2 linked regions of the Homo sapiens genome follow. The protein of the gene in region 2 interacts with the protein of the main gene of each other region in a biochemical or structural test. Each region holds a gene or a part of one and is shown on either strand. Other genes may lie near its edges. The genes, in order: PPP1R12C and TNKS2.

Region 1 (3,823 bases), on a different chromosome or scaffold from region 2:
AAACCCTGCAACCGCTTAGCCATCACCCCCAACCATGCACCCCCCCCTCCCCCCCACCCCACGAAGCCCTCTCTGCCTTCTGTCTGTGGATTTGCTGTTTTGTACACTTCACATAAAGGGAATCATACAGTATAGAATCATCAGCTTTTAACTTTTTGATAGATTTGTGTTCCTTCTCTCTGTCCCTCCCTTGCGATCTCTTCCCAGGTATAGACATAAACACATTTTTTCCTATCCTTTCTCCTCCTGTTTTTTTCCCTCCATCTCTCCCTTCCTTTCTTACCACCCCACCCCTGCCTTTCCATTCCTGAGCCTTTTTTTTTTTTTTGAAACAGAGTTTCACTTTTTGCCCAGGCTGGAGTGCAATGGCATGATTTCGGCTCACTGCAACCTCCACCTCCTGGGTTCAAGCGATTCTCCTGCCTCAGCTTCTGGGTAGCTGAGATTACAGGCGTGAGCCAGCATGCCCAGCTAATTTTGCATTTTTAATAGAGATGGGGTTTCACCATGTTGACCAGGCTGGTCTCCAACTCCTGACCTCAGGCGATCTGCTGGCCTCGGCCTCGCAAAGTGTTGGGATTACAGGCGTGAGCCCGGCCATTCTGAGACTGTGTTGCAGGCATTGTACATCTTCGCCTGATGCACAGCAGGTATCTCCTGCCACAAGGAAAACCTCCTGCAGAACCACAGTAGGGATGCAACACGCTACCCCCTGTGTTGACCTTGATGCTACACTCTCACCCACCGCACCAACCTTGATGCTACACTCTCACCCACCGCACCAACCTTGATGCTACACTCTCACCCACCGCACCAACCTTGATGCTACACTCTCACCCACCGCACCAACCTTGATGCTACACTCTCACCCACCGCACCAACCTTGATGCTACACTCTCACCCACTGCACCAACCTTGATGCTACACTGTTGCCTGCGTTTCTCCTTGACATTCTTTGTAGCCTCTCCCGCTCTGGTTCAGGGCCCAGCTAGGGATCCAGATCTGGGTGATTTAGGCTCCCTCTGTCTGGATCAGTCCTCCTTTTCCCTTGGACCCCAGGGAGGCCGGGAATGGCCTCCAGGGGGTCTGTGAACTTTCTGACGTTGTATTTTCCTGCAGAAATTGCTCATAACTTGCATCAGCTTCTCAGAGGGGGCCATGCTTCTTCCCTCCCGTGGGGTGAGGAGAAGGCTGGGAGGGATACATTGGTGGGGGATATTGGCTTGTAGGATCAGCCAGGAACGAAGACCACTGGGGCCACTGGAAAGACCCTCAGCCGTGCTGCTCGGGGTGGGACTCTGCGGCCCCAAATCACAAGGCGACTGCCTGTGACACCCTGTGACACCCGGCTCCACACAGGAGCCTCAGAGGGGCTGCAGTGCGCAGGACCTGGATCACAGGCTGCACCCCAGCTCTAAGGAGGGCGGGTCTTTTGCACCCCCTGCAGGACACGCCCACATGATGCAGAATTCCCCGAGGTGCTGGCATCCAGACTGGCTCTGGCCATAGTGTGGCCCTGGCAGCCACTCACAGGCAGGGCTGGGAGAGAAGACAGACCGGCCTCAGGCACGACCATCCCCTTCGCTTTCCCTGGCTTACTTGCTGTTTTCCTCTCTCTGGGTCTGGGGTTCAGTGAGAGCACGTGATCTGCTCAGCCAGTCACCTCGTGGCCTGGAGCCACCGCTCCCTCCAACACCGCAAAGTCCTCTGGCCCAGTCGACTCAGGGGCTGAATCGGGCATGACTCTTTGCAAGAACCAAAACCCGTTCCTCCTGGCTCAGGCCGGAAAAGGCCATTTGAGGCCTGGCACAGTGGCTCAGACCTGTAAGCCCAGCACTTTGGGAGGCCAAGATGGGAGGATCTCTTGAGCCCAGGAGTTTGAGACCAGCCTGGGAAACCTAGTGAGAACCCATCTCTATAAAACAAAACACATTAGCCAGGCGTGGGAATGCACGTACGCTCCCAGCTACTCAGTAGGCTGAGGTGAGAAGATTGCTTGAGCCTGGGAGGTGGAAGATGCAGTGAACCACGGTCACTCCAGCCTGGGGGCAAGACCCTGTCTCAACCAAATAAACCAAAACAAAAAAGGCAATTTATATACCCGTGTTCATAGCATCGTTCACAATAGCCCAGAGGTAGGAGCAACCTAGTGCCCATCATCGAATGAATGGAAAATCAACATGTGGCCCATCCATGCGGTGGGACATGATTCAGTCTTCATCCCAGCACTTAGGGAGGCCGAGGCGGGCGGATCACCTGAGGTCGGGAGTTTGAGGCCAACCTGACCAACATGGAGAAACTCTGTCTCTACTAAAAATACAAAATTAGCCAGGGGTGGTGGCACATCCCTGTAACCTCAGCTGCTCAGGAGGCTGAGGCGGGAGAATCACTCGAACCTGGGAGGTGGAGGTTGTGGTGAGCCAAGATCGTGCCACTGCACTCTAGCCTGAGCAACAAGAGGAAACTGTGTCTCAAAACAAAAAACAAAACAAGACAAAACAAAAAACACACAATGTAGATGTATCTTGAGGACATTATGCTAAGTGAAAAGTGAAAATAAGCCAGTCACAGAAGGACAATTACTGTCTGATTCCACGTCTGTGAGGTACCCAGAATAGTCAAAATAATGGAGACAGACAGTAGAATGGCTGTAGTCAGGGACTGGGAGGAGTGGGGAGAATAGGAAGTAGTTTAGTGGGTACACATTTTTTAAAATGATTTTTATATTTTTTGTGGAGACGGGGTTTCACCACGTTGCCCAAGCTAGTCTGGAACTCTTGAGCTCAAGTGATCCACCCACCTTGGCCTCCTAAAGTGCTGGGATTGCAGGTGTGAGCCATTGTCCCTGACCTAGGGTACACGATTTTAATTTTGCAAGATGAAAAAATTCTGGAGATTGGTTGCACAACAACCAATTGTGACTACTTAATGCCACTGAATTGGGGTTAAAATGGTAAATTTTAGGCTGGGCGCGGTGGCTCAGGCCTGTAATCCAGCACTTTGGGAGGCCGAGGTGGGCAGATCACCTGAGGTCAGGAGTTTGAGACCAGCCTGGCCAACATGGTGAAACCCCGTCTCTGCTGAAAATATAAAAGTTAGCCGGGCATAGCGATGTACACCTATAGTCCCAGCTACTCGGGAGGCTGAGGCAGGAGAATTGCTTGAACCCAGGAGATGGAGGTTGCAGTGAGCCGAGATCTCACCACTGCACTCCAGCCTGGGCAACAGAGCAAGACTCAGCATCTCAAAAAAAAAAAAAAAAGATGGTAAATTTTATACTGTGTGTATTTTACCACATTTTTTTCACTCTGAGATGGAGTTTCTTTATTTTTATTTTTATTTTTTATTTTTTTAATTTATACTTTAAGTTCTATGGTACATGTGTACAACATGCAGGTTTGTTACATATGTATACATGTGCCATGTTGGTGTGCTGCACCCATTAACTCGTCATTTACATTAGGTATATCTCCTAATGCTGTCCCTCCCCCCACCCCACGACAGGCCCCAGTGTGTGATGTTCCCCTTCCTGTGTCCAAGTGTTCTCATTGTTCATTTCCCACCTATGAGTGACAACATGCAGTGTTTGGTTTTCTGTCCTTGCGATAGTTTGCTGAGTGATGGTTTCCAGCTTCATCCATGTCCCTACAAAGGACATGAATTCATCCTTTTTTATGGCTGCATAGTATTCCATGGTGTATATGTGCCACACTTTCTTAATCCAGTCTATCATTGATGGACATTTGGGTTGGTTCCAAGTCTTTGCTATTGTGAAAAACAGCAGCAATGGAGTTTCACTCTTGTTGCCCAGGCTGGAGTGCAG
Region 2 (3,823 bases):
CACTATATTGGCCAGGCTGGTCTTGAACTCCTGACCTCAGGTGATCCACCCGCCTCAGCCTCCCAAAGTGCTGGGATTACAGGCATGAGCCACCGTGCCTGGCTCCCTTCTACAAATTTCTAAAATCTATGCTAAAACTTGAATTTTCATATGTTCTTTTTTTTTTTTTTTTTGAGACCGAGTCTTGCTCTGTTGCCGAGGCTGGAGTGCAGTGGTGTGATCTTGGCTCACTGCAACCTCTGCTTCCCGGGTTCAAGCAATTCTTTGCCTCAGCCTCCCGAGTAGGTGGGATTATAGGTGCCTGCCACCATGCCTGGCTAATTTCTTTGTATTTTTAGTAGAGACGGGGGTTTCACCATCTTGGCCAGGCTGGTCTTGAACTCCTGACCTCAAGTGATCCACCCACCTCGGCCTCCCAAAGTGCTGGGATTACAGGCGTGAGCCACTGCACCCGGCCATATGTTCTTATTCTAATTCCATAACTACAATGAAAGTCCCTTAGAGTGCAAATCTACAGTAACATTATTTTCTGAACAACAACAAAAATCAGTAAATGTATTCTGACAGAGTACTTTAAACTGAGACTGCTTAGAAAAGCCCAGATATGGCTGGCATATTCATATACCTTCCCATAGCAGCTAGAAAAGTGTCAGGCTTGAGAGAGAACTGAATAGACAGTGCTCAAGGATAACTTACTTCAAGAACTGAATAAGCTAAACTTTCCATTCAAGAAAGCTACTTTACCATTACTACTCGAGTCAACTGTGTGCGAATAAACTAAATGGAAGTTTCAAGGTCAAGCCAAATTAGAAGGCTGACTGATGTCATTTCTTAAAAAACATTCTCCCCCAATAGCTTACATGGTTCAGCTCATTTCAAGTATGTTCCAAATTTTCCTTGAGTTTCCATAAAACACTAATCCAAACAATATGATTTATCTACTCACCTGTTCTCTCTCAAATATATCCATTAGGTGCTCAAGTCCAAGATTCCTTACGAATTGAGTTATGCTAAAATCTACTCCTGGAACTGGGAAATAAAAAAATCCAAAACAAATGGAATTTCACATCAGAATAATGTATTTCATCACTATAACAGTAAAGTCTTGTAATGTTACTATATATGAAGAAAATAATATTAATAGCCACTTAGGATATAATACTGAACAAGAGAAAGCTACAAAATTTCAACATTAGAAAAAAGCTAATCAATGGGGCAGTCTCAGTACTCTCATTTTTATTTTAAACTTTGTTTTTAATTGCATCTATATTTTTAAAACCAGTTTTCCTATCTTTCAGGATGTAAGCTACTTCACAAAAAAGTTTATGAAAACAAGCTCCACACTGTTGCATAAGGTGGGATGAATTTTAACAGAAAAGGTTTACATCTAAAGAGCAGATTAAGGGCGGGGGGCGGTGGCTCACGCCTATAATCCCAGCACTTTGGGAGGCCGAGGCGGGTGGATCACCTGAGGTCAGGAGTTCAAGACCAGTCTGGCCAAAATGGTGAAATCCCATCTCTACTAAAACTACAAAAATTAGCCGGGCATGGTGGTGGGTGCCTGCAATTTCAGCTACTCGGGAGGCTGAGGCAGGAGCATTGCTTAAACCCTTGAGGCAGAGGTTGCAGTGAGCCGAGATCGCGCCACTGCACTCCAGTCTGGGCGACAAAAGCAGAACTCCATCTCAAAAATAAATAAATAAATAGTAGGTTAGTAGCACAAGACTCTTCAACTGTCAACTTGGAAGGAAGAAAGTAATACAAGGTTAAACCTTTTTAAGGCTATGTTAACTAATTTTATACTAATACCTTGTATTTAAGGTTAAAAATGACTTTTTAGCATCCCAAATGACAAATACGGGGCTACAATACCAGTTAGAAAGTTATTTTTGTAGAACGTCTCACCCTCCTTTTTCTCCAAACTGGAAGCACCCTCTGTTCCACTTGAACTAACTACTGAAGACAGTTCTGAAAAACTCCCAGATAAGTTGTCAAGACTGCTGGCTGCAGAAAGGCTTGATGGGCTAGATGGACCTGAAGAGAGAGCATCTGCAGTGGCTCCTGGGCTTCTCACACCATTGAGCACTTGAGGCTTGTAACAAGAGGGCAGAGCAGATGGGGGCATGGCTGCTGTCAGAAGAGCGCTGACATCATCCGCCTAGGGTACGTGTCAGAGACAACATCTGCCATAAGCAAGTTTTAAAATGCTATTATACCTAATAAAATATATTTAAAAATATGAGAAAACCCAGCAATTTGTGCCAGTACTATCACAATGGAGGATTATTCATTTTAAAAAGTGAAGCAAACAGGTTAATACAGGTCAAACATCCCAAATCTGAAAATTTTAAAATGTTGACGTGAAGCTCAAAGGAAATGTTTATTGGAGCATTTTGGATTTCAGATTTGGGGATCGGGGATGCTCAACAGTAAGTATAATGCTTGAGTATAATATTTCAAAATCTGAAAAAAATATCCAAAAGCCGAAAACACATCTGGTTCTAAGCATTTCCGATAAGGGATATTCAACCTGTATCCAGCTAAACTGTTATTAAAATATAAGACATAACTGAGAACATCTCTTCCAAAACACATATTGTCAAAATATAATTTAAATATGGCAAAGCATGAACAAAACCCTAATTCTGATACTGTGACTGAGAAGCACAACGAATTACAGAAATATCAATTTTAAAAGGTAAGAGATTTTAGTCCTATTGTAGTTACTCTGAAAGAAGTAATTCAACCTACACAGAACTTTAGCAAACTGAATTGTTTGTATTTCCTGGAAAATATTCAGCAATGTATTTGTTCCTTAAAACTGAAAGTTTTTTGGAGAGGAGGTGGGTAGAAAAGATAATCATTTTAATCAAATCTGCTAGAATGGGGCCAGGTGCAGTGGCTTATGCCTGTAATCCCAGCACTTTGGGAGGCCGAGGTGGGTCGATCACTTGAGGTCAGCCTGGCCAACATGGTGAAACCCCATTTCTACTGAAAATACAAAAATTATTAGCTGGGTGTGGTGGCGCATGCCTGTAATTCCAGCTACTCGGGAGGCTGAGGCAGCAGAATCATTTGAACCTGGGAGGCGGAGGTTGCAGTGAGCCCAGATTGTGCCACTGCACTACAGTCTGGGTGACAGAGTGAGACTTCCATCTCAAAAAAATAATAATAAATAAAAATTAAAAAAAATCTGCTAGAATGGAAAAAAGTCCTCACATTTATTGGTACATTAATTTGTTTAATTTGTAATATGTACTCTTCTTTCACAACGTTCAACTAATGTTCAGCAAGGAATAAATTAGTACTTGTTTCATAGTCATTTGTTCTGACTATTCCAGTCATCACCTTTCTCTTCCCCCAGTCTATGCATTCCCATTGCACTCACAATTTGTAAATGACATTTGTTTATAATAATAGTACCATTTATTGAGTGCTTTTTATGTACCTGATACCATGCCAAAGACTTTAAGTAAATTACCCCATTTAATTCTCATACTAACCAGATATATTTTACCTCTATCTATAGATGAGGTAACTAAGGTTTAGAGGTTAGGCAGTTCATAAGATTGTACAACTTAAATCGTGCAGCTGGAATTCTAGGCCCAGTCTGTCTGACTCTAAAGCCCCTGTATGTTCTCTACAGCATTTTGCTTCATTGTAACTTAATTGTATCTGGTCAACTAACATATGGGTGGAATGAATTCCAAATGTTCACTTTTAAGGTAACTTGGAACTAGAAAGATATTTCCCTGAAGAGATAATGTTGTAAATATGGCTGGGTTGTTAGCTGACTGAGAAAAACCTACTTAAGCACCAATGC

The links.
Region 1: the proteins of TNKS2 (region 2) and PPP1R12C interact in a biophysical measurement, tested with the Homo sapiens proteins (one study listed by IntAct).

Annotation. Positions count from the first base shown.
Region 1 is NC_000019.10:55,107,375-55,111,197, reverse strand, and holds part of PPP1R12C (protein phosphatase 1 regulatory subunit 12C), read left to right. Parts: intron 1-3,823. UniProt on the Homo sapiens protein: Regulates myosin phosphatase activity.
Region 2 is NC_000010.11:91,846,718-91,850,540, reverse strand, and holds part of TNKS2 (poly [ADP-ribose] polymerase tankyrase-2), read right to left. Parts: intron 2,159-3,823; coding exon 1,906-2,158; intron 1,030-1,905; coding exon 947-1,029; intron 1-946. UniProt on the Homo sapiens protein: Poly-ADP-ribosyltransferase involved in various processes such as Wnt signaling pathway, telomere length and vesicle trafficking.